Linked DNA regions of Homo sapiens. The protein of the gene in region 1 purifies or fractionates together with the protein of each later gene. This does not show direct contact. Each region holds a gene or a part of one and is shown in the gene's direction. Other genes may lie near its edges. The genes, in order: PPME1, PPP2R2D, PPP4R2 and ACY1.

The links.
Region 2: the proteins of PPME1 (region 1) and PPP2R2D purify together in Homo sapiens (affinity purification with mass spectrometry; 6 studies listed by BioGRID and IntAct, with this or other methods). This does not show direct contact.
Region 3: the proteins of PPME1 (region 1) and PPP4R2 purify together in Homo sapiens (affinity purification with mass spectrometry; 5 studies listed by BioGRID and IntAct, with this or other methods). This does not show direct contact.
Region 4: the proteins of PPME1 (region 1) and ACY1 purify together in Homo sapiens (affinity purification with mass spectrometry; 4 studies listed by BioGRID and IntAct, with this or other methods). This does not show direct contact.

Annotation. Positions count from the first base shown.
Region 1 is NC_000011.10:74,250,544-74,256,773, forward strand, and holds the end of PPME1 (protein phosphatase methylesterase 1), read left to right. Parts: intron 1-410; coding exon 411-475; coding exon of another isoform or gene 476-715; exon of another isoform or gene 716-1,087; intron 1,088-1,104; coding exon 1,105-1,172; intron 1,173-1,870; exon of another isoform or gene 1,871-2,009; intron 2,010-2,948; coding exon 2,949-2,967; 3' UTR 2,968-4,160; downstream 4,161-6,230. UniProt on the Homo sapiens protein: Demethylates proteins that have been reversibly carboxymethylated. Demethylates PPP2CB (in vitro) and PPP2CA. Binding to PPP2CA displaces the manganese ion and inactivates the enzyme.
Region 2 is NC_000010.11:131,896,294-131,905,504, forward strand, and holds the start of PPP2R2D (serine/threonine-protein phosphatase 2A 55 kDa regulatory subunit B delta isoform), read left to right. Parts: upstream 1-4,714; 5' UTR 4,715-4,855; coding exon 4,856-4,862; intron 4,863-4,944; coding exon 4,945-5,037; intron 5,038-9,211. UniProt on the Homo sapiens protein: Substrate-recognition subunit of protein phosphatase 2A (PP2A) that plays a key role in cell cycle by controlling mitosis entry and exit. Involved in chromosome clustering during late mitosis by mediating dephosphorylation of MKI67.
Region 3 is NC_000003.12:73,062,811-73,072,013, forward strand, and holds the end of PPP4R2 (serine/threonine-protein phosphatase 4 regulatory subunit 2), read left to right. Parts: coding exon of another isoform or gene 1-90; exon of another isoform or gene 91-527; intron 528-862; coding exon 863-937; intron 938-1,192; coding exon 1,193-1,336; intron 1,337-2,041; coding exon 2,042-2,331; intron 2,332-2,586; coding exon 2,587-2,912; 3' UTR 2,913-6,388; downstream 6,389-9,203. Other genes in the region: EBLN2 (endogenous Bornavirus-like nucleoprotein 2), read left to right, coding at 1-90. UniProt on the Homo sapiens protein: Regulatory subunit of serine/threonine-protein phosphatase 4 (PP4). May regulate the activity of PPP4C at centrosomal microtubule organizing centers.
Region 4 is NC_000003.12:51,985,784-51,991,261, forward strand, and holds the end of ACY1 (aminoacylase-1), read left to right. Parts: intron 1-68; coding exon 69-163; intron 164-471; coding exon 472-548; intron 549-631; coding exon 632-721; intron 722-821; coding exon 822-878; intron 879-1,204; coding exon 1,205-1,278; intron 1,279-1,363; coding exon 1,364-1,413; intron 1,414-1,525; coding exon 1,526-1,670; intron 1,671-1,772; coding exon 1,773-1,841; intron 1,842-2,740; coding exon 2,741-2,820; intron 2,821-2,982; coding exon 2,983-3,043; intron 3,044-3,127; coding exon 3,128-3,292; 3' UTR 3,293-3,414; downstream 3,415-5,478. Other genes in the region: ABHD14A-ACY1 readthrough (NMD candidate), read left to right, coding at 69-163, 472-548, 632-721, 822-878, 1,205-1,278, 1,364-1,413, 1,526-1,670, 1,773-1,841 and 3 more. UniProt on the Homo sapiens protein: Catalyzes the hydrolysis of N-acetylated amino acids to acetate and free amino acids.

The DNA of each region.
Region 1 (6,230 bases):
TTCCTGGTTCCCTCTTGGATTGTGAAGTTCCCTTTCTTATGCTCTTACAGCCCCATGTAGCCAGTTTTATCATAGGAATGACATGCTGCATTAAAATGTTGGTTTTTGTGTTTTACTCCCCTACTGGACTGTAAATCCCCTGAGGACAAGAACTGTTTCTTCTATGTGTCTCTGGCCCACAGTAAATGTACACTAAATAGGACAGAAGGAAAAAGTGAAGGGAAATGATTGGCGCAAGGTTACAATTACTTGTATTACCATCCTCAGCAAGACTTGATAATTGGGTCCAGAGTATTGAGGTGAGGTTGGAAATGGGGAGGTAGGTCCTGGGCTCCTGGAATGACCTATGAGGCTGCATAAGAGAGGGCTCTTTTAGTCGCTGAAGTTGCCTTGCTTTGATTCCTCTCCAGGGAAGTTCCAGATGCAGGTCCTACCCCAGTGTGGCCATGCAGTCCATGAGGATGCCCCTGACAAGGTGAGTCTGGTGCTCAGTGACTGTAAAAGGACAACTGTGAGAATAACCCTGGATGTCACAGAAGACAAGTCTCTGAGTCTCAGCCTGCATTGCCTGCAGCAGCTGCTGTGGAGCCTATGCAGATGCAGTTCCACCAGCTCTCCAACTTCTCCCTGGCAGCTGCTTATGGTATTGGTTTTGTGTATATGTGCTGAGGAGCTACTGACACTCTGCTATTTCATCCCAGGGCCCTGTGGTTAAGATCTTAAGCTCTACTTCTCCAATACCCCCAAAAGCCAGAGATGGAAGAGGGATGATTAGGGTAGAAACTGCTCCCTAAACCACAGGCACAGTTAGGAATTAATATGGGCTCCTCCTGTGAGAAAACACCATTCTGTAACTCTGAGGGCACACATAAGCCCTTCACGTCATTCCTCTTGAGCTCTATGGAGCTATCCCTGGCAAGGATAGTGGGGAGGAGTCTTCTAGCTCTGCTAGGGAGGGCCTAGGTCCTTTTAATTTCAAGCCACTCAGACCTGTGGGTGGGATGAGGGCACCGTAGAGCCTAACCATCTAACAGTAGCTCACAGCCCAAGGCTAAGCCCCATCACTAACCTTTATATGGCCTGGAATATCTCTCCCATTTCCAGGTAGCTGAAGCTGTTGCCACTTTCCTGATCCGGCACAGGTTTGCAGAACCCATCGGTGGATTCCAGTGGTAAGGCGGGTACAAGGGTTTAAGAACCCAGCAGTGCTGGCCGAATCTGACAAGCAGACACTTGTAGGACTGTAAATATCTCTGCCTTACCCCTGCCTGGTTTGGTCACCATGCCTTTCTTCCTCCTCCTCAGTGAAGAGCCTGGCATGTCTGTTTCTACAAAGCCATGGTTGGTTGTTTCTTTGTGCTGTGCTCCCACGGGTTGATGCTGAGGCTGTGATTAAATTGTGCCTAGTCTCACTCCCCACTGTGATGTGCATTTCTTCTTGAGGTGCCCCTTTGAGGAGGCTGGGATAGGAATCAGTCCTTTTCCAGGCTCCTAGAGAAGTTTTCTTTGGCTTCTCCTGCCCTGCTGCCAAGGAAAGCTGGGCAGGCCATGGAGCAGGGCTTTTTTTTTTTTTTTTTTTTCTTGGCACAGTCTTGGTTCACTGCAACCTCTGCCACCTGGGCTCAAGTGATCCAGTGCCTCAGTCTCCCGAGTAGCTGGGATCACAGGCGTACGCCACCGTACCCGGCTAATTTTGTTTTTTTTTTTGTTTTTTTTTTTTTTTAGTAAAGATGGTGGTTTCTCCATGTTGGCCAGGCTGGTCTTGAACTCCTGGCCTCAAGTGATCCACCCGCATCGGCCTCCTAAAGTGTTGGGATTATAGGGATTATAGGCACAAGCCACCGCGCCTGGCCTAGAGCAGGGTTTTCTACAGTGTTGCACAGTGTCTTCCCATGGCCAGCTACTAAGCAAGCTGGGAATGGAATGGGTGCCTCTGCCAGGCTTGCTTCCCCTCCCTTTCCGAAGCTGGCAGAATATTAGCCACTCTGCAGGGGTGATCCTGGAAGCTCTAGAGCAGGGTTTTCAACCTCAGCTTTATTGACATTTTGAGGTGGATAATTCTTCATTGTGGGGACTGTCCTGTGCATTGTAGGATGCTTAGCAGTATCCCTGGCTTTTACCCACCTGATAACAGTAGTACCCCTCCCACACACGGTTTTGACAAACAGAAATGTCTCCAGATTTTACCAAATGCCTCAAGGGAGGCAAAAATTCCCCCTCTATTGGTCTAGAGGAAGAAACAGGGCCAGGTCTCTCATCCTAGGTAGCTCTTCATCTGTTTAGGGAAACACAGTTGGGCTCTTTGTTGAGGAAGAAGAGAGGCATGTTGACCAAACCAGGTGGTATTGACCCACCTCAGCCAGCTCCTAGTCTGTACTGCAGAAGGCCTTTGATCCTCAGAGAGCCCACAACCCTCATGAGGAGTCATTCCTACCATTGAAAAGTCTCTTCTCTGATTTTGGTGAGGGCTTGGGGAAACTTGTTCCCCACTCTCAGAAAGTTTGCAGAAGAAATATTAAGAAAAGGAAATGGCTTCTGCGTTAGAGAACTCTGAATTCCAGGGCCTGGGAGATGAGAGTGACAGGGCAGGGTAAGCACTGGAGATGATGGCAAGACCTTGGGACAGTGAACCACAGAAGCGACACCCCTATGCTGAGCCATCCCTCTAACAACTGACCATTCATGGATCCCAGGAACCAACAATAAAGACTTAATTTCTCTTACTAAACAGTGTTTGGCTGGGGCCCTTCGACCATTTGGAGCCTTGGGCAAATGAGCAGCACACTGAGAGCAGACCCTGGGTCCAGCTCTGGTCAGGGCTGTGAAATGGGTCAGATTTGCCAGGGCCTTGGTGGTCATTAGGGAGGGCTTCCTGGAGGATACAGATAAGCAAGGGAAAGCTATTGATAGTTACATTTGTTTTTCCTTCTCTTTCTGTTCTTCCACAGTGTGTTTCCTGGCTGTTAGTGACCTGCTGTCCACCCCTCCTCAACATCGAGCTCTGTTGTAAATACGTCGCACCAGAGGCCACTGTGATGCCACTGTCTCCTCTCCATCCCGCCCAGCCATGTGACACTGGCTCCCGGTAGACGGGCACCCCGAGATGTACCAACCTTTTCATGTATTCTGCCAAAAGCATTGTTTTCCAGGGCCCTTGACCAACATCGGCTTCCCCAGTCCAGGGCTCCCCTGCTCCTTTCCCTTCCCTGTACTGGGGTAGCTCCTGCCTGCTCTCCCTGCGTTGCCTAGGGTAAAGCCTCCAGATTTGCCATACTGAGCCCCTCTTCCTAGCATCAGGCGATACATCTGAGTTCAAATGTCTTCCCAGGCTCAGGGACCTCCATTCCTTGAGATTGTCTTGGCATGGCCCAGCCCTGCCTCATGGGATGGACAATGCATGGGGTGGTCTTTATTTTTCCCTTTCAAATAAAACACTAGTCAGGTACCGTTTTATCCCAGTCGTACTCTTCCAGGTTTGGAAGACCCAGAGAGGCCAAGATCCCATCCTTAGCCATAGCGAGCGGTGGTGGTGGATAGCATCACAAGAAACGAGCCTGAAAATCAGGTCCAGCCGGTCCAAGCACATGGCCTCCCATCTGGGAGAGCCCACTGTCCCACTCCCACATGTCTGGGCACCTGCCCTGGGCTGAGGCCAGGCTGCTCCAGGGGCCTCCTGCGCCCTCACCTGCCACAGAGCAACCCAGGTTAAATACAGCCCATGCACAAAGCCACAGGCCAAAGCCTATGGAATTGTTTTTAATCATCAAATTTAACCATTTTCATAACTGGTTCCTGGAGGTGTGCAGTGCCCCCTTGCCTCTTCAAACCTACAGCTTCTCTTTGCCATTTGTGGATTTCACATCACTCCACACAGAAACATTACAGCCTGGCATCCCCAGTCTTTGCCTTCTTCCAGCTGCCTCGACACAGCACTGTGGCCTGTCCCTATTGCCCAGGCACGCCATTTCCAAGGGCAGGAAGGGGCAGTGTCCTGAAGCCCATCTTTTCTGTGACTGTCTTAGGTGATGTGTAGCCCCCTCCACCTTTCCACTCAACAACCTCCCACCCCTGTCCTGCTGCATGGTCCGGAGTCTGGGACCTACTTTGTTTTTTGTTATTTATGACCTTGTTTAAAGAAAATAAATATCTCCCAACCTTTATTGGTCTGGTCTTTCTCTGTGGAATTGTCCTTATTTCTGCTGATATGGGGGCAGGGGACAGCTCATTGGACTTAGTTGTCATGGAACTCCAGAAACCCCTTTCCCTATAGCCCTTCAGTGTGTTATGCTCTGCCTGTCCCCTGATCCAGAATGCCCAGTGGGATGGTCAGAGCCACCCTCCTCTGCAGCCAGGATGGGATTCCAGTCCCATCTCTCCTAATTATCGGCTGTGTCGACTTTGGTCCAGAGCAGGACAATCTGTGCACTGTCCACATGATCTCAGTCACCATAGCTTCACTTATGTGAAACTTCATCTACAACCCAAATCATTTCCTGAGCTCTGAACAGGTAGGCCCAGGTTCCTCCTCCTGTCTCTCCCAGATGACCAAAAGCCACTTCATATTGACTGTTTCTAAAGCTGAATCCACCTTCCCCCGGAAACTTGCTCCCCATGAAACTTGCTCTTCCTCCAGCGTTTCCTGGCTCAATAAGTGATAGGTATCACCATCTCTCCAGTTGTCCAAACCAGATACCCACAGTGAATGACTTCTCTTACACCCACCTCAGGTCTACCACCAAATCCTGTTCATCCTCTTTTCCGTGTCCCCCTCTTTTCCATCCCACAGCCAGTGCCCTAGCTTAGGCCTCATCATCTCTCACTTTGATCACTTCAGTACCTTTGCTGCCCTCCTCCCCCCTGGGTGGTCCTCCACACTGTTGGAGGCTTCCTCCTAGCAGGCTCTGGGGCCAGAGTGTCTAAATTAGAACCCAAGCCCCACCCCTTACACTGTATGGTATGGCAACAAACTTTCTCTCTGCTGTAGTTCACTCATCTGAAAAATGGAGATAAACCGTACCTACCCCACAGGGTCTTGAGGATTATACAAGTTAAACTAGGTTAACTGGCTTTCTCACTAACTGGCACATGGTAAGACATTTAATAAGTAGTTCCTGTTATGACACTGTTACATTGTTATAGTTAGGAACTTTATTCAGGGCCGTCTGTGGGCCAATAGCATCAGTATCTCTTGGAAGCTCGTTAGAGAACTGTGTCCCCATGTCAGACCTATTGAATCAGAACTGATCTGCATTTTAACAAGTGCATCAATGTCTGAAAATTTCTTGTCTAGTTGATGATGAAATATTTCAGGGTAGTTCATGAGCTCCCTAGTAGAGGAGAGAAGTTCCTTATGTGTGGTTTGATTTCTCTCACCGGAACACTTTGCGGGTGCCTTTGCTGAGCTATGTGCCCTCTTGTCCACAAGAGGGCAGCATGATCACTTGGTTTTCAGGGGCACTCAGGTTCATCAGGTTCACTCAAATTTTGAATGTCATCTAATTCACTTGACACACATCTCATTTAATCTTCACAGCAACTCTATGAGGTAGGTGCTGTTATGTTCCTTTTACAGGTAGGCAGACAGGTCCAAATTCTACAGCTTGGAAGTGACTGTCAGAATTCAAAACTGGCTTGCTTCCACATCATTCTGTTCCTGCATGCTACAAGGGACCCTGGGCAGAAGTCATTTTGGACCAGATACTTAAAAGAGCAGAAGGAGGATGACCGTGGAGATGAACCCTCTTTACACTTGATGGAGGAGGCTGAGAATGAATGAAATGCTCGTGAGCTTTGTGGTTGGTTGTGTTTTAGGCACTTTCATCTCCATTCATCCTTTGTATCCTTGTGAAGTACAGGCACTATCCCCAATTTAAAGGCAAGGAAGCAAAAGCTCAGACATTTGAAATGGCTTGCCCACAGCCACGGCCAGAGTGGCAGCATCTTTGTCTTCTGATTCCAAGTCTACTGAGCATTCCATTACACCCCAGAAGAGAAGGGACCATTCATGTGTTCACTTAACATGGCTTTAACGAGCACCTACTATGTGTTGGCCATAACAGTGTCCTTGCAGAGCCTACAGATCAGCATGTATGAACTCAGGAAGGGAATAAAGAAGGAGATCCCAGAATCCTTGAATGAAGGATTGCCACAAAGCCAGAAGGAGCATGTTTGGGACAAACCAAAGGCCCTGTCACATAGACACTAGTGAAAGTCCAAGGGAAACTCCTTCC
Region 2 (9,211 bases), on another chromosome or scaffold:
AAAATCACTGTAGAGCAGTCTCACCTGTTCTAGAACTTCAGGATTCTTCAGAGAAACCGTGTATGGAATGAGCTTTATTTTCAGGAACTCACTCACACAATTGTGGAGGCTGACAAGTTCAAAAACAGAGGGTGCACAGGGTGAGCAGGGCAGGCCGGCAGGCTAGCTCAGGCAAGGGCTGATACAGCAGCCTGGAGGCAGAATTTGTTCTCCAAGAAACCTCAGTATTTGTTCTGAAGGCCTTTGATTGATTGGATGAGGCTCACTCATATTATCAAGGGTAATCTCCTTTTCTCAAAGTCAACTGCCTGTGGGTGTTAACCACATCCACGAAACACCCTCGTGGCAATACTTGGCTTAGTTCTGATGAAATAACTACATACTATACCCTCGCTACATTGACACATGAGACTAAGTATGATAAAATAAAGGGGCGCATGCAGCTTGCACGCCTCCGTGTCTGGCTCCTTTCATTTTCGTAATATTTCGGGGACTCATTTGGGACTGCTGTTTGTATCAGTAGTAGCTCATGCCTTTTAGTTACTGAACAGTACTGCCTTCTATGATTACAATAGGCTAGATTCTAATACACACCAGGCATTTTCAATTCAGCTGTGAGATCTGAAAAACAATTTTAAAAAATAAAATTGCTGTCAATACTCAGAAACTTGTAAACACCAATTAGAATCCAAACAGAGAAATTCATTGAGCTATTAGGTTGGCGCAAAAGTCATTGTGGTTTAGCCAAATATTTTAAGTTTTTAGCATCATAAGAAGAATAGTTAAAAATCTCTTTTTAAAAAATAGTTAAAAATCTCTTGCTGGTCAGCTGATGCACAGTGGGACGCAGGGAAGGCAGCCCCCCAGTCTCAGGAATATGTTACTTTTGTGGCTATATCTTGTTTTTAGTTTAATTTAATGGGAGCTAATGAACCAGAAAATACATTCTAAACAAAAACTAATTATCTTGTCATCACTTCAAAAGACATATTTAACACACATTAAAGCAGTTACATAGGAACTAAGAATAAAATCCTACATCCCCCACTGGCTGAACGAACACCCCTGTGGCCAGGGGGGGCCCCAGGAAAACCTCAACACTGAGGCTATAATGGGGGATGGGAGGTCAGACAGGCCTCCTGATACCCCCGCCCTTTTGTGGTTTGGACACAACAGACCAGCGTTAACGTTAAACTAGAGACCATAAGACTGACAGAACGGACTCTGTGGCAGTAAGATGCCAAATCATAAACAGGGCCTAAGGCCGTGCGGGGGGAGGGTGAAGCCACGCACCGCACACTTACAGAGAAAACGTCGTTCCCACTGCTGTTGGGTTTTCCTTCCCTCCAGCAGCTAAATAAGCACTGGCCTTGATAGGAGCAACATTAAGCAACTGCAGCTCCACCAGCCACTAAGTGACCCCCAGCCCTGCTCCAGCAGCCGTAACTACAGCTTTCATTGGACAGAAGACTGTAACTGTCTCCTGATAAGAAACCACCGACCTTGGACTGGTTCTGGCCGGTTTACAGAGGTTGCACATCTGCATGCCTTCCTGTCCTGAAAAGACCTCTTGAGGTACAGGGCCTAGTCCTAATTTACTTATTTATTTATTTATTTATTTATTTAGAGACGGAGTCTCGCTCTGTCGCCCAGGCTGGAGTGTAACGGCACGATCTCGGCTCACTGCAACCTCTGCTTCCCAGGTTGGAGGGATTCTCCTGTCTCAGCCTCCCAAGTAGCTAGGACTACAGACATACGGGCGCCACCACGCCCAGCTAATTTTTGTATTTTTAGTAGACAGGGGGTTTCGCCATGTTAGCCAGGCTGATCTCGAACTCCTGACCTCAGGTAACCTGCCAGACTTGGCCTCCCAAAGTGCTGGGATTACAGTCGTAATATATTCAAATGTTTAGTCTCCCCGACAGAGTGAGATTGGGTCCTATGTTACATAATACACGTGTCAGGAGCCCCTTCCTGAGTATTCATAGCTCCTCCCAAAGCCTGTTGTCTATGTATGTTTAGCCAACCCGTTCAGCATAGAGCTCCTGCCCCAACTCCTCCTCCTACGAAGAGCCATCTCCCATCTTGGCCTGGGGGATGGCCACCTTGCTGGCTGTAACCATTTATAAGAAATAAAGTTCCTCTTTTTCTAAATTTATAAATTGTCAGGTTTTTAAGTTAACAAATAAAAGAGATCTGGTCATTAATTCAGGTTTTCAAGTGTCTTCCTGGGCAGATAGGCTAAATCTACATTTTAAAAACAAGATTACAGCCCCATTTTTCTGCTCTTCTTCTCCTCAACAGAGAAGTAGGTATTCACTGCCTCTAGTTCCTCTCCTGCCACTGTCCCCAGAGCCCTCTGCAAACTTGTGATCTGAGTCCATTCCATAGCCACCGCTCCGTCCAAGTCAGTAATGGCCTCCCAGTCCCTACAACCAAATGGTCACTCCTGTATACTCATCACATAGCATCACAGAGCAGCCACTCCCTCCTGTCTTCAGTGGATCCTGGAGATGGGTTCTCCAGGAGCCCACCTCGCAGGCTGCTCACTCATCCTCCACGTCCTCACCCCTTCAGGGCTCTGTCCTTGGTCCTGTCCCCCATCTGTCCTCCCTCCTGAGGTGACCTCACCCAGTTTCCTGACTTGAAATGACCTCTAAATGCTCTCACCTTGATGCTCTGGCTCTGACTTCCCTGTGTGCTCCCAGCCTGTCTGTGCAACAGCACTATGTGTTGACAGCGAACCTCTGGTCGGGCTGCACCGCCCCCACCCAGCTGTGCCTTCTGCTGCAGAAACTCCATCCTTCCAGGTGCTCAGACCACCCGAGAGCAGGCATTCCTAAGTCCCTGCTTTCTCTCACACCGCATCTTTTCCATCAGCAAATCCCAGGGGCTCTGCTGTCGAAGCACTTTTCTCTGAAATCTGACTGGTTCTCACCACCCCACCCCATGTTCACCACTCTATCCTCATCCCCATGCCTGGTCAGCCCAGCTGGCCACCTGATTGGTCTCCCTGCTTCCCCTCTTTGGGTCCCCACAAGCTATTCTCAGCAGAGCATCCAAAAGCCCAAGTCCATCACGATCGTCTTCTGTTCATGAGCCCATCTCATTCAGAGTCCAAGTCCCCTAAATGGCCTGCCCACTGTCCATCCTCCTCCACTTACCTCCCTGCCTTGACTCCAACCCCTGGCCTCCCCTCCACTCACTCTGCACCCACGCAGCTTCTGGCTGCCTCCTGCCCATGCCAGGCATGGCCCTCCTTCCTGTCCTGGCACTTGGTGGTCTCCCCTTCCTGGCCAAGCTTTCCTAGACGTCTGCATGGTTTGCTCTTTATCCTTGAGTCTTCTCCAGTCACCCCGTGCAAGACTCCAACTCTCCCCATACACATTTCCTTCTTCCCTGATTTTTCTCTCCAGCTCCGACTTATTATGTATTTATTTCCTTATTGTCTGTCTCCCCCACTGAAAGGTAAGCTCTACCAGGGCTGAGATTTCTCTGCTCTGTTAACCTCTCACCCCCAGGGCTGTGGAGTGTGCCGCACGTGGCAGGAGCTGTCAATAAATAATATTAATGGAGTGGACGAATGTTCCTGATTTGCAGCGACTGTCTTTTAGTGGTGCAATACCATCAGTGCCCACCGCAGCTACCCTGAAAGAAGTTCTGATTCCGGACATCAATCCCATAGGGACAGTCCCCCTGATGATAGCTCGACTTCAGATTTTTCAACTTTACGACGGGTAGATTGGGTATTAGATGCATTTTTGACTTAGGAAGGGCTTATTTGCGGGGAGGGTAGCCCCACTGTAAGTCGAGGAGCACCCATGATCGCTCAGTATGCCAGAGAAAACCACCCGCAAATGAAACGATCGGCCCTGTTTCCCTAAGACTGCACTGGGAGCTCCAAGAACCCCTAAGGTAGCCATCTGGTGAGCAACGGTGCGCTCCGAAAGGGAGGTGGACAGGATTGGGAGACCGAGGCCGGCAGATGGCTCGAGCCCAGGAGTTCGAGACCAGCCTGAGCAACATAGACCCCCGTCTCTACAAAAAATTTAAAAATCAGCGAGCCTGGCGGCGCGTGCCTGTGCTCGCAGCTACTTCCGAGGCTGAAGCAGTAGGATGGATTGAGCCCAGGAGGTCGAGGCTTTTAGGGAGTCGAGATCGCGCCCCCGCACTCCAGCCCGGGGAACAGAGCGAGACTCCGCGTCGGGGGCAGTGGGCGGGAGGCAGCGCTCAGGTACGGCGCGCTCAGGTGAGGCCGGCCCACATGCCCGCCCACCGCCGCCAAGCGCGTCCTCCATTGGCGGTTCCACGGAGAACCCACGTTTCCATTGGCCGATGCGGGATGGGGGCGTGTCCGGCCAAGCGGCGCCCTGAAGGCGTGTCCGGCCGCAGCTTAGGCTCTCCGGGAGTCCCCGGAGAGTAGGGGCGGCCGGCGGCGCTAGTCTTCTGGGGAGCGCCGGGTGCACACCGGACCACTGCGGGAGGCCTAGGGCCGAGGGCCGAGGAGCTGGCCTGCGCCCGGCGACCCCGGCTTCCCTCCGCAGTCGCCCAGGCGTCCCTTCCCCCCTACAGCCGAGCGGCGCCGGGCGCAGGCGCATTGGGCGCCCCCGGCAGCCCCCGCGGCCCGCCCCGTCCGCTGCCCGTCCGAGGAGGCGGAGGGCGATGACGTCATCGAGCGGGGCGACGGGCATTGGGCGCCATTTTGAAAAGGGAAAAAAATCCCTCCCCGGCGGCGGCGGCGGCGGCGGCGGCGCCGGCGGTGGTGGCGGCCCCGGGGCTGAGCGCTCGGCTGCAGCGGCGCGGAGGCCGTCTCCCTGGTCTGCCGCGGTCCCCGCCCGTCCCGCCGCCGGCTGCCATGGCAGGTGAGGGGTCTGCGCGGGCCGGCGGGGACCACGGGGGCGGGCGGGGGCCGCGGCCGGCCTGACCGCCCCGTTGTGTTTGCAGGAGCCGGAGGCGGCGGCTGCCCCGCGGGCGGCAACGACTTCCAGTGGTGCTTCTCGCAGGTCAAGGGGGCCATCGACGAGGACGTGGCCGAAGGTGAGCCCCGCGCCGCGCCCCGCCCCGGGACCCTCGCGGACAGCTCCCAGCCCGGCCGCGCGCGGCCTCCGGGCCCCAAGCGTCCGTGGAAGGCAGGCAGGAGGATGGGGGCCGGGCGGGGCAGGGGCCAGGGGCCGAGCTGGGGGCCGTGATCGGGGGGCGGCCGTCCTCTGTCCGCTGTCCCGGCCCGCGGGGCACGGGCGGAGGCGTCGGGCCCGCGGCGGGACTTATGTAAGTCACCAAGGTCACGGGCGGCCGGGTCCTCCGAACCCAGCGCCTGGGGCTGCCTCCTGCCCGGGGCGGAACCGAAGCCCGGGGCTGCCTCCTGCCTGGGGCGGAACTGAGGAGACCGCGGCGGAGCCGGGGACGGGAACGGAGTCCATATCGTGCGCTCGGGCAGCGCGGCACAATGGCCCAGAGGCTGGGAACGCGCCTAGGGCTGGGTCGGGGCCTCGGCCCCCACCAGGCTCTGCGTTTCATCGGCGGTGCGCTCTTGAGCGAGCTGGTTGCCTCGGCTCCCTGATTCTTAAGGTCTGCTTTCTGCGGTTCTAAAATCCTTGAATTTTACTGTGAGGTACTGCTACTTTCTCTACTGATATATTTTAAGGTCTCTATTCCAGATTTTAGTCTTGAACTTCATGGTATTACTTGAAGTTCACTGGTCTTTTCCTTAAATCATACTCTCAAATTGGCCCAGGCACAAAGTTTTAGGGTGGTGGGAGGGAACTGGGAAGTGCCTCCCACCCCAGCTTCCCATGAAGCTTACCTGTCACCTTAAAGTTAAAAAGCTATGTAGCTTTCCTTTTTCACCGTTGAATGGAGAACTTGGTCGAGTCTTAGAAGTTTGATTAATATTTCAGATTCAGAGTCATAGTGACTTTTTTGTTGTTGTTCATACATCTTACTGAACATTGTAAACCTTTAACCTTTTCTTAAAAATGATTGGTGTTTGCACCAAATACACCTTCCCTGCCTCAAGTTACTAAAAGCCCCTTGTCAGACGTCCTGTTCACTTCCCTCCATCTCGGCCCCCCCAACCCCGTGAACTTTTACTCCCTCTTCCCTACCCTGTACCTCTCCCTGGCAGTGTCTGGTTTGGCACATGACCCCTGAGGACATCTGGAGATTCTGCGCCCCCTGGGACAAACAGGGCCTAGGTTATTAAGCAGGTGAAACTGGGCTCTAAGAAATGCGTAATATATATGGTTTGAGATTAAAACTAGGTGCATTTTATGTGATCTAAAAAGTTTATTGATTTTATTTCTTTAAAATGCATTACTTTTTTTGTTTGATTTTGCATATGCTAAGCAAGTGACAGTTCAGCCTTACTCAAGTGTGATTTCTGTCGCAAGTAAAGCAAAACTTGTTTGGGAGTAGGAAAGTGAGAGGGCTTAATGCTTGCCTTAATTTCTGTTAACTCTTTATTTTGTTTTTTGGAGACAGGGTCTCACTTTGTAGCCCAGGCTGGATGGAGTGCAGTGGTGCGATCTGGGCTCACTGCAACCTCTGCCTCCTAGGCTCAAGCGATTCGCCCACCTCAGTCTCTGAAGTAGCTAGGACCACACACACGCGTGCACCACCACACCAGGCTAATTTTTGTATTGTTGTAGGGGATTTCGCCATGTTGCCCAGGCTGGTCTTGAACTCCTGGGCTCAAGTGGTCTGCCCACGTCAGTCTCCCAAGGTGCTGAGATTATAGGCGTGAGCCACCGCACCTGCCTGGTTTCTTTACTTAAAAAAAAAAAAATTATTGATAAGCTGAATGAATTAAAATTTAAGTATAACTAAGGTAGTATATTTTAAATGTGACTGTACACATATGAAAATAGTATTCTTTCTTTAAAAAAAATCTTGGGCCGGGTGTTGTGGCTCATGCCTATAATTCCAGCACTTTGGGAGGCCAAGGTGGACAGATCACTTGAGGTCAGGAGTTTGAGACCAGCCTGGCCAACACAGTGAAACCCCGTCTCTGCTAAAAATACAGAAGTTAGCCGGGCGTGGTGGCACATGCATGTAATCCCAGCTACCTGGGAGGCTGAGGCAGGAGAATCACTTGAACCCGGGTGGTGGAGGTTGCAGTGAGTGGAGATCGTGCCATTGCCCTCCAGCCTGGACAATAGAACAAGGCTCCATCTCAAAAAAAAAAAAAAAAAAAAAAAATCTTGACAAATACTTTGTTCTCTGAATTAAACTGATGGGAACTTTTTGCAGTTTTAAATCCCTATTTTAAGTTAAATTTTGAGTAAATCCAAAAGTTTGGTATTTCGAGTTGTCGTGGTTTCTTTTGTAACATTGCTTTGTGGTAATTATCTGCATGTGTTTTGGTTATTCTGTGTATTCAGAGCTGTCTATTTTAATCCATGTATGCTTTGGCCATAGTAACCCATCCAGATTAACACATTTATAAGTCACCATCGATTTGTCCCATAGTTGTGATACCGTTGCTTTGTATTAACACCAGAGAGTCAGTGATGATGAAGGGAAGTGTAGTCGTTAGTCACCAGGGATTGCTGAGCAGCAAGGATCAAGAAGCTGGTCATGCCCAAACGCAACCTTGAGGGAGAGATGTTGGTGAGAGATAAGAGATGGGTGGCTGGGTACGGTGACTCACACCTGTAACCCCAGCACTCTGGGAGGCTGAGGCGGGTGGATCACTTGAGGTCAGGAGTTTGAGACTAGCCTGGCCAATATGGCGAAACCCCATCTCTACTAAAAATACAAAAATTAGCCAGGCGTGGCAGGGCCGGCCTGTAATTCCAGCTCCTCAGGAGACTGAGACAGGAGGATTGCTTAAACCTGGGAGGTGGAGGTTGCAGTGAGGCGAGATGGTGCCATTGCACTCCAGCCTGGGCGTCAGAGCGAGACTCCGTCTCAAAAAAAAAAAAAAAAGGAGAGAGATGGCCGGGCGCAGTGGCTCACGCTTGTAATCCCAGCACTTTGGGAGGCCGAGGCAGGCAGATCACAAGGTCAGGAGATCGAGACCATCCTGGCTAACACGGTGAAACCCCGTCTCTACTAAAAATACAAAAATTAGCCGGGTGTGATGGCGGGCGCCTGCAGTCCCAGCTACTTGGGAGGCTGAGGCAGGAGAATGGCATGAACCCGGGAGGCAGAGCTTGCAGTGAGCCGAGATCGTGCCACTGCACTCCAGCCTGGGCGACAGAGCAAGACTTTGTCTCAAAAAAAAAAAGAGAGATGGGCAGTTCACAGGGGTTTTTATCGTGCACTGCTGCTCAGGCTGTAGAACTTAAGGTATAGCAGATTTTGTTTGTTTAGATTTGTGGCTTGTGAGGCATTTTGTTCTTGAAGGTTTTGTTCTGGGCCAAGTTCAGCTCTGTAGAGCTTTACTACAGCCCTGCACTCTGGCCGTCTTTCTGCCCTCTCTGCAATGGGTAAGGAGAAGGAGCCTTAGAGATTAAGGCCTGGGTCCTCTCCTGACTTCAGTGGGGTGATGCCCAGTGCACAGGAAGTGGTGCAGGGCTAGGAGTAGGCACTCCTGACTTTGGAGGTCATGAAGTGAGTGACATAGAAAAGCCTTTGGTTTTTGTTTTGATTTCTGTTTTGTTTTTAAAACTAATAGTTTTGGGCTGGGGAATCAGAATCAACCTATGGTGAAAGTGCTGGCCTATGTAAAATTTGATGCGCACCCCACCCCCCTTTTTTTTTTAAAAGAATTGGGTTTAGCTATGGGTCAGGTCATTTTGCTAAGAGTTGTGATTCCACTGGGTCATCAGACTTCCCATCCCCCTGCAGGTAGGAGTAGAGCTGAGCTCACAAGGAAGTTATTAAGTGTCCTGCTGATGAGCAGGTGTATAAGCAGCAGTCAGTGGTGACTTGCATCTCCTCCCTTTGCTGGAAGGTGGGACTAGGTGAGTTTATATGCTGAGTTGACCAAGAGTTAAAATAGTAAAACCAGGGGGCTTCCAGCAGGAAGCAAGTAGAAAAGTTGTTTGTTAGCTTCTAATTCCACGATGTTGCGGTTCTAAACGGTGGCTCCTTTCTGGAAATTGTTAACTGTTGTGCAGATTTTTTCTGCATGTTATGGAATCACCTTCACCCAGCCCCTGCTCCCTCTCCTGGAACGTACTTCATTCAGCATGTGATGTGTTTTGCAATGTCACATGGTATTTCATCCTTTGCTTCTCTCTCTGGTAGACTGAGCTCCTCAAGCTTG
Region 3 (9,203 bases), on another chromosome or scaffold:
AGCTCAAGACCATGGGTTGGAGAATTAATGTTCACACTTCTATTTGGAGACTTTGAATCCCCTCTACACAAGCTACGCAAGTCAAGTTAGTTGCCAAGAAAGCACAGATGACAACCTATTAATGCTGTGAGAATGTTTCTAGATCAGTGCATGGATGGCTCCATTGCTCTACGGGCCATTGTGTCTGAGATCCCAGTCTTTGAGGAGAAAAAAAACAATGGTTAAAAAGGCATTGGGGAAATATTTTGAGTTTGGGGGTGTACTTTGCCACCCCATTATTGGGGAGCTGTCACCACGAATGTTCCCAAACTTAGCAACAGCGGCAAACTACTGGGCCAAGATGAGCAACCCCACATTTTTGGGATTTAAAGCTCCTGATGTTATACCAGGATCAACCATCACACTCCCTTTGCTTCAAATGGCATCTACCCCGTAAGATCTTGAGGGGGGAGTGTTGGGTGGAATCATAGATCCATGCACTCCTAACATGAACTAATTCTCATTATTTAAAAAAAAAAAAAAAAAAAAAAGTCCAGGTGTGGTGGCTTAACGCCTGTAATCCCAGCACTTTGGGAGGCCGAGGTGGGCCGATCACTTGAGGTCATGAGTTTGAGGCTAGCCTGGCCAACATGGCAAAACCCCGTCTCTACTAAAAATAAAAAAAATAGCTGCGCATGGCATCACACGTCTGTCATCCCAGCTACTTGGGAGGCTGAGGCATAAGAATTGCTTGAACCTGGGAAGTGGAGGTTGCAGTGAGCTGAGATTGCACCACTGCACTCCATTCCACCTTGGGTGACAGAGCCAGACTCCATCTAAAAAAAAATTAAGTCATCCACAAGTGTATTTTCTTTTCTTATAGGAAAAACAATTCCAATAGTTTAAATCGAATGAATGGTGTTATGTTTCCTGGAAATTCACCAAGCTATACTGAGAGGTGAGATTCTAGATTTTTAATACCTACAGAGTTTGCATTGTCCTGATTTTGAGTAGCAGGCTTAGTGTACTTTTTAAAAATTGGGCATTTTATGGACACCATAGGATGAACTACATAGAATTAGTTAATTTGGTAAGGCATGGGCCTGAAAACAAAGTTGCAGCAAATACTTCTGTGATGTATTCACATCAACATACCTTAAGAGGGATGACTTTTTATAAAAATAGGAAATGATGTTCATTTATCTTATTATAGGTCTAATATAAATGGGCCTGGGACACCCAGGCCACTTAATCGACCAAAGGTTTCTTTGTCAGCCCCCATGACAACAAATGGGTTGCCTGAGAGCACAGACAGCAAAGAGGCAAATTTGCAGCAAAATGAGGAGAAAAATCACAGGTTTGTATGTTTTATATTTAAAAACAGTGTTTTTATTAAAAGTTAAAGTTAACATTTAATCAGTACTTATCACTTACTATTTATAAGTTCTGAGGGACAGAACAAGGTTTTCATGCGGTTTATAGGAGCACTGGCTTCTCTTTGCAGCTGTAGCAAATGTTGAAGGTGGACATAGACAAGACTTAAAACTGCTAATTTGTGGAGACTGTTTATGTAGGGTCTAAAAGTAACGTAGATATGATGATCCATTTCATTTGTTGTTTCTGAAAGTTACTTGAAAAGAAATGATCTTTATAAATAAGTTGATTTTTGTGAGTCGTTTCTCATTGTAGTTCATAAAAGGACACCTTTTGTTTATATCTTCAAATTTTCTGTATCACATTAAGGGAAGGAAGACTAAATGAGGGAGAGGACTTAAGAGAGTATGTCCGTATGGAAGACTTGCGGGTTTATTGTAGGAGAATATTTAACTTACTGGAGAATTGCACAGAAAGGTCATATAGCTTTTCTGAGTCCTACTGGGAATTATTCATCAAACAGTTTAGTTTACCTTGAAATTATTCTCTTGTGTTTTTCTTTGTTCAGGTGTTATAATTTAACTTTGACACTGAAATACAATTTAAAACATTATTTAACCTTAAAAATGGGGATGTAGAAGATGGGGAAAATAATCTTATTAATGACACTTTAAAAAAACATTTACAGTGACTCTTCGACCTCTGAATCAGAAGTTTCCTCAGTGAGCCCTTTGAAAAATAAACATCCAGATGAAGATGCTGTGGAAGCTGAGGGGCATGAGGTAAAAAGACTCAGGTTTGACAAAGAAGGTGAAGTCAGAGAAACAGCCAGTCAAACGACTTCCAGCGAAATTTCTTCAGTTATGGTAGGAGAAACAGAAGCATCATCTTCATCTCAGGATAAAGACAAAGATAGCCGTTGTACCCGGCAGCACTGTACAGAAGAGGATGAAGAAGAGGATGAAGAGGAAGAAGAAGGTATTTAGAGACCATCTGTAAAAGGGTGGAGTAAGGAGATCCTCAAATTCTTGTACTTCATTTTTTTCGTGAAAGAATTTTACGTAATGGAACTCCTTATAATGCTGATGTTGGGCTTTTCTCCCACCTGTATGTAGTTGCTGCTGAATTTCAGGGGATGTGATTTGAACTATAGAATATCAGAATTCATGAAACTTAACTGTGGAGGTATTTTGAAAATACAATTTAACTACAACAACATTTGCTTATTTTTAGAGTCTTTTATGACATCAAGAGAAATGATCCCAGAAAGAAAAAATCAAGAAAAAGAATCTGATGATGCCTTAACTGTGAATGAAGAGACTTCTGAGGAAAATAATCAAATGGAGGAATCTGATGTGTCTCAAGCTGAGAAAGATTTGCTACATTCTGAAGGTAGTGAAAACGAAGGCCCTGTAAGTAGTAGTTCTTCTGACTGCCGTGAAACAGAAGAATTAGTAGGATCCAATTCCAGTAAAACTGGAGAGATTCTTTCAGAATCATCCATGGAAAATGATGACGAAGCCACAGAAGTCACCGATGAACCAATGGAACAAGACTAACTATTTAGAAACATTTAGATGCAGTATTTTACATACAGTTCTGGTTTTAACACTGTATAAAACTTTTGTGTAATAAAATGGACCTTTAGTTTTACAAGAGAAGCAGGTTGTAAAATAAAGTACTTTATGGATAATTCCTGAAAGAGTTGTACATGTAAGAACTGTGAATATCAGCTCCTCTGGGTCCTGCTTACCTTACCGCTGACTTTTCTTTCTTTCTTTTTTTGGTCTGGGCAAATCAGTGGTTTGTGTATAGATTTTTTTTTTTTTTTAATTTAGGATTGAAGTTTTTAAACTGGAAAGTAATTACAATTTTGAAAAGTTTTTTGAGATTATCACATTTAGTTTATACATATGCAAGAAGCTTTTTGTCTTGTCTCTTTCTGATAGCTCTAGCAGTTTTCATATTTTGGTCATAGTTTCAACATTTTAACATGTGAATTATAGGGTTTCATGCTGGTTTCCAGATTTTATTGTTTGGCTACGTACAATGGAACTTTAAGTCATATATACATACATATATATATATATATATATATAATTCTAAGGGGGGAAATGTTATATTTTTCTGTTTCTATAAGAGATGAATACAGTGGATACTTTTTCTATTGGTAATGATTGAGTTCACCTCTTTCAGAAGACATTTTCTTTCTCTTCTGAGTAATTGAAATAAAATCTGGCCCTTGTGAAACCCTGGAAATCTTAAGTCTGTTGAAATACCAGGTTAAACACATTCCAAGAGATCTGTTCAAACTCAAATTCTTTTGTATACTTCTGAGGTGCCTGAGAAAAAGACTTCATTATTTATGAGAAAATATGCTTTATCTTGGAAATTGTGTTCAAATGTTAGCTTACTATTTTGTAGAATGAATGTTTATGAAGCTGATATGAGACCATCTCAGAAGAACCAAGTAGGTTCCTTGACCTTTTGCTTGCTTTTCTGAACATTGTGAATATTACACATGTCTTTCTAAATTATTCTAGGGTATGCAAATGTCAATGGTATGAAACACCACTGTACTGGAAGAATTAATATATTACTTTAGTATGTACCTGAGCTAAATGACTGAAGCTTTAGGGGTGCATAGAAACCACCATAATTTGTATGACATTTTGAAGTGAATTAAATATTTTTGAACATGCTTCTTCGACAGCCAGTGTTATATTTTTCAGATCAACACAAAGCACAATGATTACTCGAAATTCAGTATTTTCAAATTTACATATTTAAAGTCATGCAAGCTGTAACTTCCCTGTCAAAATTACTGGCTGCCAAATTTATACCTGTTTCTTCAGCTGTACCTTTTGATATTTAAAGTTTTTAAATTTCTGTAAAGTAGATTTTGTAGAATGTAATGTGTTCACTGCCTTTGTGAAGCGGTATATAATTGTATAATTTCTGTGTGTAAACTGAATGCTTGGGCTTTCAATACAGTATTCATATAAAGCAATAAATATTAATGTTATGAAATATTTGACTACATTTTTATCAAAATATGAAAGAATCCCCCCTTTTTTAGTTTCAGATACCTGAACTACACAGATGAGCTTCTAAAACTGATGCAAACAGTTTCTGACACTGTATAATATGCTTTTGGGTGATTTGGGGGGCAACCACAAGTTTTGCGTTTTGACTACTTAAATCATCATGGCTATAAATACCAAAACGATTTGGATCCATTTATGTTTGTAGGATAATATACTACTGACTGACTTGACTGTCAGGTTCACAACAGCTAGATGATATATTTATGACTATGTCTAATAGTTGAAATAAAATCTGAATATTGATTTACTATACCCAAGAGGGGAGAAAAATTAACCATTGTAAATTTTTAAAAAATTTTTCAAAAATGTTAAAATGAGGCAAATTTAAGTTTACAAATTTTGAAATTTTCTTTTGAATATTTATGAAATTGTCAGTAAACTTACCTAAGATCCTGTGACCTTTTGATATTTTTTATTTTAATTGTAGTGCCATGGACCATTTGTAAACAAATTGATTTACTTTTGTTGGTTGTAAGTTGAAGATTTAGCATTATGACTTTGAGGTCTGTGGTTTTATTTGTAAACTTGCAATTGCTATATTTGCAAGGGCAAATGTATTTCTTTATTAAATAAAGTACAATAATGGTGAATGTACCAAAATGACATCACTTAACTCTATGAGAGATCTGCATTTTAATCTATAGTTTAATAGTTTTAATATTTATTAGATATTCATATGTTGATCATAGATCAAACTTGTTGCTGTTTATACAGATAATTGTAGAATGCTCATGGAATATCTTTAGGGTAGGTGGAATACTTCTGTAGTTAAATTGGGAAACCTTGTTCAGCTGGTTTTAGATATTGATGGCCATTTGGAAGTAAATTTCCGCAGGTATTCATAGGTGCACTTAACACAGACTTTGCTTAATGAAAATGTCAGTTCTAATAGTAACTGATTCACTTCTGAACAGAAGTGATTTTAGGCATATTTCTTAACATATATCAAGCAAAGTCCTGTTAAAAGATCTAAATGAAGAATGGAGACCTCAGTGATTAAAGATATTTTGTTTCTGACCTTGAGCAGATTGCTTACCTGTTCTCTAGACTATAACCCAACATGTAAAAAAAATTTGAAGATGGTGATGAGGAAAGTGAGATATATATATATATATGTATTATGTTTCTAGCACTTTTCCCTTTTAAAAAGTGAAAATATCCTTGTACATTTTTGAAAAATATATTTTCAGTTCTGAAAAATGTAGCAGAAGTAGTGAAAATGTCATATTTTAAATGTTGATTATTAGATAAATTTAACCTGCTTAGGGTTTATTGTAACTACACCTTTCAGACGTGTGTTTTGGAGTAGTGGAATTGCCAGCCAGGCCCTGTGGCTTGGAAAGGCATCCCAGAAATCCTCGGCCAGAAGGTGTGGCTTGTTAAAGCATTGAGATTCAGAGTATTTTGTTTTGCCGGTGTAGATAGGCATGTATTTATGCATTTTTGCATTTGTAAAATCAACTTTTCAAATAATGTAAATGTAATATACTAGTTTACTTAAAGGTACTTGGGCAGAATCTAAAGCTGCTACAATGTTTGATTATGAAAAAAATGTAACATGGTAAGGATGAAAATGCAACTTACAAAACCAAAGGAATTAAAAATTTTCGGTAGTGTTTCAAATTGTCTTCTGAACAGGAATTTAACATTGGTTTTGATGAAGGTGAGGGTCAGTTCTCAAGATTTGTGCTAATCATAAAATGAATGAATGCAAAACACCTTGTAATTTCATATGGAATTATAAAAATTAGGTTTGCTGGGTTTTGGCCTAATAAGAGTGCTAGTATGTATTGGTTAGACTACATCTTACTATTTCACATTTTAAAAATCAGTACACTCTTCAGGATTTTCTTTTATTTCAACTTGGAGCCTAGATTACTTTGCCAAATGTATTATTTTCATAATGCAATAAAATATAAATTAGAATATTTCTATGTGTGTAATTATTTTATGTGCCATAATGGTTTATTTGCCCTGCTGCCACTCCGACTCCCCCCCAACCCCCCCAACCCCCCCCGACCCTGCGCCACCACCCACCTCAAATCCTTAACTGAGGAAACTCAATGTGTGACTTTGTTACAGCCCTGTTTCTTACATGGTGACAAAGTGTTCCAGCAGGACTTGACAGTTGTGGTTCTTTGCCAGGCAAGTCATGCTGATTGTCAACAAAATCCAGATTTAAATAAGTCTCCACTGGTATAATTTGGCACTAGCTTACATGTATATATTTACAATATTTGTGTTAATCATTTTAAAGGCTGGGCGCAGTGGCTCACGCCTGTAATCCCAGCACTTGAGGCCAAGGCAGGTAGATCTCTTGAGGCCAGAAGTTCGAGACCAGCCTGGCCAACATGATGAAACCCCGTCTCTACTAAAAATAACAAAAATTAGCCAGGTGTGGTGGTGGGCACCTGTAATCCCGGCTACTCAGGAGGCTGAGGCAGGAGAATTGCTTGAACCTGGGAGGCAGAGGTTGCAGTGAGCCGAGATCACACCACTGCACTCCAGCCTGGGCGACAGATCGAGAGTCCGTCTTTAAAAATAAAAAAAATCATTTTTGAAATCCCACCTTCAGGCAACTACATGGTAAGAAGTGTAGAATTACCTGAAGTGGAGAGGAGGGTTCTGTTTTCAACTGTGGGTCTCCTTTCCTATGCTTCTTTTTGTTTTTGTTTTTGGGACGGAATCTTCCTCCGTTGCCCAGGCTGGAGTGCAGTGGTATGATCTCGGTCTCGGCTCACTGGAACCTCTGCCTCCCGGGTTCAAACAATTCTCCTGCCTCAGCCTCCTGAGTAGCTAGGACTACAGGCATGCACCACCATGCCCGTCTCATTTTTGTATATATATGTTTTTCGTAGAGATGGGGTTTCACAGTGTTGGCCAGGGTGGTCTTGAACTCCTGACATCAGGTGATCTGCCCGCCTCAGCCTCCCACAGTGCTGGGATTACAGACATGAGCCACCATGACTGGCCCTCTAGGCATATTATCGCACAGTAGCTACAGTAGAGGGTAAGATCTGTGGCTCTGAACTAAGGAGAGTACTAGTCGGTGTGTTTCTAACCTTAAGAATGTCTTAGTTTTCAGCTTCTCATATTTGATCTCTTACCCCCACTTAATTTTGTTTACTAAATAGTATAACTAGTACGTAGTTCAGGGCTAATGATGGGAAGACTGATTTTTCCACTGGCTAGGAATAAACTGCGTGAACTCTTCCCTATTTAAAATGAAGAGTATGCAATTCCCTTTTATTCTTCAGAACGTTTTAAGTTTAAACTTTAGCAGTAGTTTGTCATCTTTAGGTTTTGTTTGTACATTTTCAGAGTTTTTCTTCCCATAACTAAAAGTAATGAATATTCCAAAATGCCAGCAATTCCCTGTATACTAGTCTGCCATCTCCACTGTTTTACTCATCTTTGTAACCTCACAGGCTAGCCCCATGCTTGACAAGTGATAACAAAATTGAAAGCAAGTGGTAGGTCCACAGCCCACTTTAGATTCCTATGTTTTACCGATTCTGTGTCTACTTTGCCCACTTCAAGTGTGCTAAGGTCACCCCTGCAACTTTGCTACTAGGTTTGTGGGATTGGGAGCAGTACATTCTGTTGAATGCCCTTGCCAGGAAATCAGTGGGCAGTTGGATGGTATCACCAGAAAGTGAGCATCTTAACAAAGGAAATTTCCGTGAATGAGACCAGCTACCCCCTGCCTATAGAAAGCACAATAGCACACCCGCCTCTTACAGGGGATAGGTGCTGCTACAGGAGGATATATCATTAAATTACCCAAGTCCTGCTTTAGACATGGTATAATGGGACTTGATATTCAGTAATACTTGCAGCAAGAAATTTTTGCAGTTGAGTAGGCTTGTGAGACTTTTGATGCTGCCTATAATCGCTGAGAATTTGAAAGATAAATATGGGTTCAGTATTCTGTCTTCATTTTGGATGATAACTGTTTTTCTTTGCATTTCATGCAATGCTACAGAGTGGAAGGGTAAGCTTAGTTGGTGACTAACAATTCCCATGTGTATTTAAGAATGCATGCAGTTTCCCACTTTCAACCTGAAAACGTTACTTGATTGGAATTCAGAATACAGTTTCTCATGTAAATTATTTAAAATGTGGCTAACTTTGAGGCTATTATACAAGAAGCTGTTTAGGCCTTAATGTTGAGTGTATTACTGTGGTTAAATGTAGCAATTGTAACATTTCTATTGAAATATGTGGGTCAGTTTCCACTGTGGGTTTGTCGAAAATGCCTCTCCCACAGCTTTGGCAGTGCAAGTAAAGACTGAAGGTGGAAGTGTGTTAAGATCCAGCAGCTCGCCAAATATGTCAGTTATTTTAAAGTCAGGGATTTAGCATAAACTAAATATATCTCAATATTGGGTGATTCAAACTGCAATAGAATTTGCAGTGTCTTGGGATCATTATGATGGTGGTGTTTTGAATATTAGAAGTGTATCCAGATATAGGAGGTAGGGAATATTTTCCAGTATATTTCATAAGTTCCCTCTAAAAAACAACAGCACAGAAAGATTTCCAGGTGTTTTGAGTATTCATTTGGAATTTCATGAAATGATGACTATCAGATTTCACTTATCCCAACAAAGGGAGTTAAGAAGAGGTAGACAAAACATACAGATGGAGAAAAGCATGTCTGTTGTTAGGTAGCAACTTTCATGAATTGTGTATTTGGGGGGCTAAAAAGAGTAGATTTAGTCCAATTTCATATTTGAGGAA
Region 4 (5,478 bases), on another chromosome or scaffold:
ACTGTTGACCAGAGTGGATTAATGGCTAAATTTGGGGTTTGGGCCCCTCTTCCCATCCCTGCCCCCAGGAACATTGGAGTCACGACCCCTTTGAGGCCTTCAAGGATTCTGAGGGCTACATCTATGCCAGGGGTGCCCAGGACATGAAGTGCGTCAGCATCCAGTGAGTGTCCTCCATTCCTACTCCTCCACAATGTCCCCACTGGTCCAGTGGATTGAAGCAGGACCTGAGGGGGTGATTGGAGAAACTCAAGGCCAAGGAACACCGTGACCTCTTGGACAGGAACTACTGCCATGACCATTGCATGGATAGGGAGATTCAGACCAGAGAGGGGCAGGGACTTTCTGGAGTCCCTATCAGGGTGTGGCAGGGTAAAGTCCAGGACACAGGACTCCAGCCTGCTGGCCCTGCCTGTGGGGCCAGCCTGCGCATCTGGTGGCTCCCCCAGCACCTGGCTTATGCCCCCTCAGGTACCTGGAAGCTGTGAGGAGGCTGAAGGTGGAGGGCCACCGGTTCCCCAGAACCATCCACATGACCTTTGTGCCTGGTAGGAGTGGCTCAGATACCTTTGGGAAAGGGGAGGGTGGGGCGGGGCAGCCTCCTCATCTCACGTCCCTGCTGCTTTTACAGATGAGGAGGTTGGGGGTCACCAAGGCATGGAGCTGTTCGTGCAGCGGCCTGAGTTCCACGCCCTGAGGGCAGGCTTTGCCCTGGATGAGGGTGAGCAGGTTGGCAAGCCAATGAGCAGCCAGGCAGGGAGTAGGAGGCTGCTAGTGGGGACTGAGCTGCTCCACCCTCTGAACCCCCTTTCCCTCCTCAGGCATAGCCAATCCCACTGATGCCTTCACTGTCTTTTATAGTGAGCGGAGTCCCTGGTGTAAGTATGAGCTTGGAGGGAGGGCTCACTCTACAGGCGGGAGGCTAGGCCAGAAAGGGCACGGTCCTATGCAGGGTTGCACAGCAAAGTTGAGGCCTGAGAAGGCCTTGAACCCAGGGCCTCTACCTCCCAGCTCTTTCCTATCTGAGCTTCTCTGAGGGCAAGCCCTGAATGGGCAGAAACCAGCTGTATGCTACGGGCCCTGAGTGGGGACAGGACCCTGCCAGAGGAGCCTGGAATGAGGGGGAGACCTGGGCCCACCCCAGGCTGATTGTGTCTCCAGCCCCTCAGGCTGAAGACACTGCCTTCCCCCTACACCTCCCCAGGGGTGCGGGTTACCAGCACTGGGAGGCCAGGCCATGCCTCACGCTTCATGGAGGACACAGCAGCAGAGAAGCTGGTACGTGGCACCCCAGGAGGGAGTCTGGGAGTTCAGGAGGCTCTATCCTGAGGCCACTGTCCCATTTAACCTCATATTCTCATAGCACAAGGTTGTAAACTCCATCCTGGCATTCCGGGAGAAGGAATGGCAGAGGTGAGGCAGCCTGGGAGGCAGTGGGGTGGCTCTGGGAGGCGGTACCACAGAGGATAGAGTCTGAGCCACCTCTTTTATCTGTTGCTGCCGCTACCCTGCCCCCACACCACAGGCTGCAGTCAAACCCCCACCTGAAAGAGGGGTCCGTGACCTCCGTGAACCTGACTAAGCTAGAGGGTGGCGTGGCCTATAACGTGATACCTGCCACCATGAGCGCCAGCTTTGACTTCCGTGTGGCACCGGATGTGGACTTCAAGGTGCCACCTCCACCTGGGTTTGGAGGAGGGATCCTGGGTCCTCAGTCTTGTCCTAGAGGCCTCTGGAAAGCCTGAAGGATCAGCTCGTCTCCCTTCTCTTAGGCTTTTGAGGAGCAGCTGCAGAGCTGGTGCCAGGCAGCTGGCGAGGGGGTCACCCTAGAGTTTGCTCAGGTATGGACTTGGGACATGTGATGGGAGAGTGTGGGAGCCGGGGGAGACCCAAGTGTGCAACAGTGGAGTGTGTGCTTGGTGTGTCTGCATATGTCTGGGCATTTCTTTATCTGTGACAGACACATTTTATTCCAACAAGCATTCATTGTAGAGGCCACTGTGGGTGCTGGGGAATGCTGTGGGGAGTAAAATTAGGCACAGTTCATGCCCTTGTATGGTGAAACGGGGAGATATAAATCAAACATTTATGTGATATTACTTTTTTCTGAGAGAATCTCACTCCGTCACCCAGGCTGCAGTGCAGTGGCACAATCTCGGCTCACCTCCGCCTCCCGGGTTCAAGCAATTCTTGTGCCTCAGCCTCCAGAGTAGTTGGGATTACAGGCACCTGCCACCACGCCCAGCTAATTTTTGCATTTTTAGTAGAGACAGTGTTTCACCATGTTGGCCAGGCTTGTCTCGAACTCCTGGCCTCAAGTGATCCACCCACCTTGGCCTCGCAAAATGCTGGGATTACAGGCATGAGCCACTGCGCCCAGCCGTACTTTCATATAACCCATGTGGTACAGGAAAGGGTGGCCCCTTGCACTCTGAAAACCTGTAACTGGAGTATCCAACTAGTCTGAGAGGTCTGGGGGAGCCATCTTGAGGAAGGGGCACTTGGGCTAGGATCTGAAGGATGGACAGGAGGTAAGTAGACGGAGGGTGGGAAGGTCCCAGACCTAGGACATTTGAGGGGCTGAAAGAGGACCTGTGGCTGGACTGGCTACCCAGATGTCTGGGTAGGTGAAGGAGTGGGGGTGGGGAGGTGTTATGTACTAGGCACAGCCCACTCTATGGGAAATAGGGCAAGATGCCCAGGCCCATGTCCTGATCCTGCCATTCTTCCTGTCCCTCAGAAGTGGATGCACCCCCAAGTGACACCTACTGATGACTCAAACCCTTGGTGGGCAGCTTTTAGCCGGGTCTGCAAGGATATGTGAGCACGCTGGCCAGCTCTCCTCACAGCCCAGCCCCCTACTCCTCTCCTTCCTGCTGCCCCCTCCCTTCTCCCTCCTTCTCCCACCTCTTTCCCACCTTCCTTTGCCCCTTCAATTCTTCGCTTTCTCCCTCCCCATTCATCAGGCTCTTTCTCCTACAGGAACCTCACTCTGGAGCCTGAGATCATGCCTGCTGCCACTGACAACCGCTATATCCGCGCGGTGAGCCACTTGCATATAGTGCCTGGGCAGTGGACTGGGCCTGAGTGCTGGCTTTTCCCTAACGGCTCTTCCTCACCCCTGCAGGTGGGGGTCCCAGCTCTAGGCTTCTCACCCATGAACCGCACACCTGTGCTGCTGCACGACCACGATGAACGGCTGCATGAGGCTGTGTTCCTCCGTGGGGTGGACATATATACACGCCTGCTGCCTGCCCTTGCCAGTGTGCCTGCCCTGCCCAGTGACAGCTGAGCCCTGGAACTCCTAAACCTTTGCCCCTGGGGCTTCCATCCCAACCAGTGCCAAGGACCTCCTCTTCCCCCTTCCAAATAATAAAGTCTATGGACAGGGCTGTCTCTGAAGTACTAACACAAGGACACTCGTGGAGCAAGAATTTTCCTTTTCCTGGGGACATGTTACCATCTCCATTTCACAGATGAGGAAACTGAGCCTGGCTGTTAGCACTTCCCCACTACCCCACACTGCTCTGTGCCCCTTGACACAGCACACCCATTCAGTACCATCCAGCCATGTCTGTGCCTAGCAAGAAAGGGCCACAGTTCCTATTTGAGTGGCCACCATACTTAGTTCTGACCTATCAGGGATTCCATTCCCATTAAAGAGGGATACTAAGGACCTCAGGAACCACTCCCATCTTCCTGGGTGTACATCTGGGATCCTGAGACAGTACCAGAATAGCACCAGCTGGGCCCCTGCTAGATGAGGGGCAGGCAGAGGGCCAACGGTGACTGCTGGCTCCTGTCAAAACCTGTACACCCTTGTGTTGGCAGCAGGGGCCACAGAGGGGCAGGGTCCCTGGTAGACTAGGTCAGTTCATCTTAGAGGCCTCAGCACCCTGGATCTGTGTGTGCAGAGGCCCAGGAACTGGGCTTTCATCTCAGCCTTGCTAGGACCCCCAGGTAGTACCAAGAGTAAACTATGGCCCCAGTAGCAGAGCCTGATCTAGCCAGATCTGCTCTATCCTGTTCTGACTTCCCTGAGCATGGGGCAGGAGAGACAGGGCTGGGGTGGGATAGTTGGATTTTTTAAGTTTCTAGTTGTAGCCAGAAGTCCAGAGCCTGGCTCTGGGCTGCAGGCTTAGTACTAATAGAAATAACAATCACTCCTGCTCACAGTTGACAAGGAGCCAGGACTTGACTGGCTTTTTTTTTTTTTTTTTTTTTTTTGAGATGGAGTCTTTCTCTGTCGCCCAGGCTGGCGTGCAGTGGCGCGATCTCGGCTCACTGCAAACTCCGCTTCCTGGGTTCACGCCATTCTCCTGCCTCAGTTTCCTGAGTAGTTGGGACTACAGGCCCCCGCCACCACGCCCAGCTTTTTGTATTTTTAGTAGAGACGGGGTTTCACCTCCGCCTCCCAGGTTCAAGGGATTCTCCTGCCTCAGCCTCCCAAGTAGCTGGGACTACATGCGCGTGCCACCACGGCCGGCTAATTTTTGTATTTTTAGTAGAGACGGTTTCACCACGTTGAACAGGATGATTTCGATCTCTTGACCTCAGGGGATCCGCCTGCCTCGGCCTCCCAAAGTGCTGGTGAGAGGTGACAGCGTGCTGGCAGTCCTCACAGCCCTCGCTCGCTCTCCCCGCCTCCTCTGCCTCGGCTCCCACTTTGGTGGCACTTGAGGAGCCCTTCAGCCCACCGCTGCACTGTAGGAACCCCTTTCTGGGCTGGCCAAGGCCAGAGCCGGCTCCCTCAGTTCGCAGGGAGGTGTGGAGGGAGAGGCGCGAGCGGGAACCGGGGCTGCCCGCCGCGCTTGCGGGCCAGCTGGAGTTCCGGGTGGGCGTGGGTTTGGCGGGCCCCGCACTCGCACTCGGAGCAGCCGGCCGGCCCTGCCGTCCCCGCCGTCCCCGGGCAATGAGGGGCTTAGCACCCGGGCCAGTGGCTGCGGAGGGTGTACTGGGTCCCCCAGCAGTGCCAGGCCACCGGCGCTGCTCTCGATTTCTCACCGGGTCTTAGCTGCCTTCCCGCGGGTCAGGGTTTGGGACCTGCAGCCCACCATGCCTGAGCCTCCCACCCCCTCCACTGGCTCCCGTGCGGCCCCAGCCTCCCCCATGAGCGCCGCCCCCCGCTCCACGGCACCCAGTCCCATCCACCACCCAAGGGCTGAGGAGTGCGGGCTCACGGAGCAGGACTGGCAGGCAGCTCCACCTGCAGCCCCGGTGCGGGATCCACTGGGTGAAGCCAGCTGGGCTCCTGAGTCTGGTGGGGACGTGGAGAACCTTTATGTCTAGCTCAGGGATTGTAAATACACCAATCGGCATTCTGTATCTAGCTCAAGGTTTGTAAACACACCAATCAGCACCCTGTGTCTAGCTCAGGGTTTGTGAATACACCAATGGACACTCTGTATCTAGCTACTCTGGTGGGGCCTTGGAGAACCTTTATGTCTAGCTCAGGGATTGTAAATGCACCAATCAACG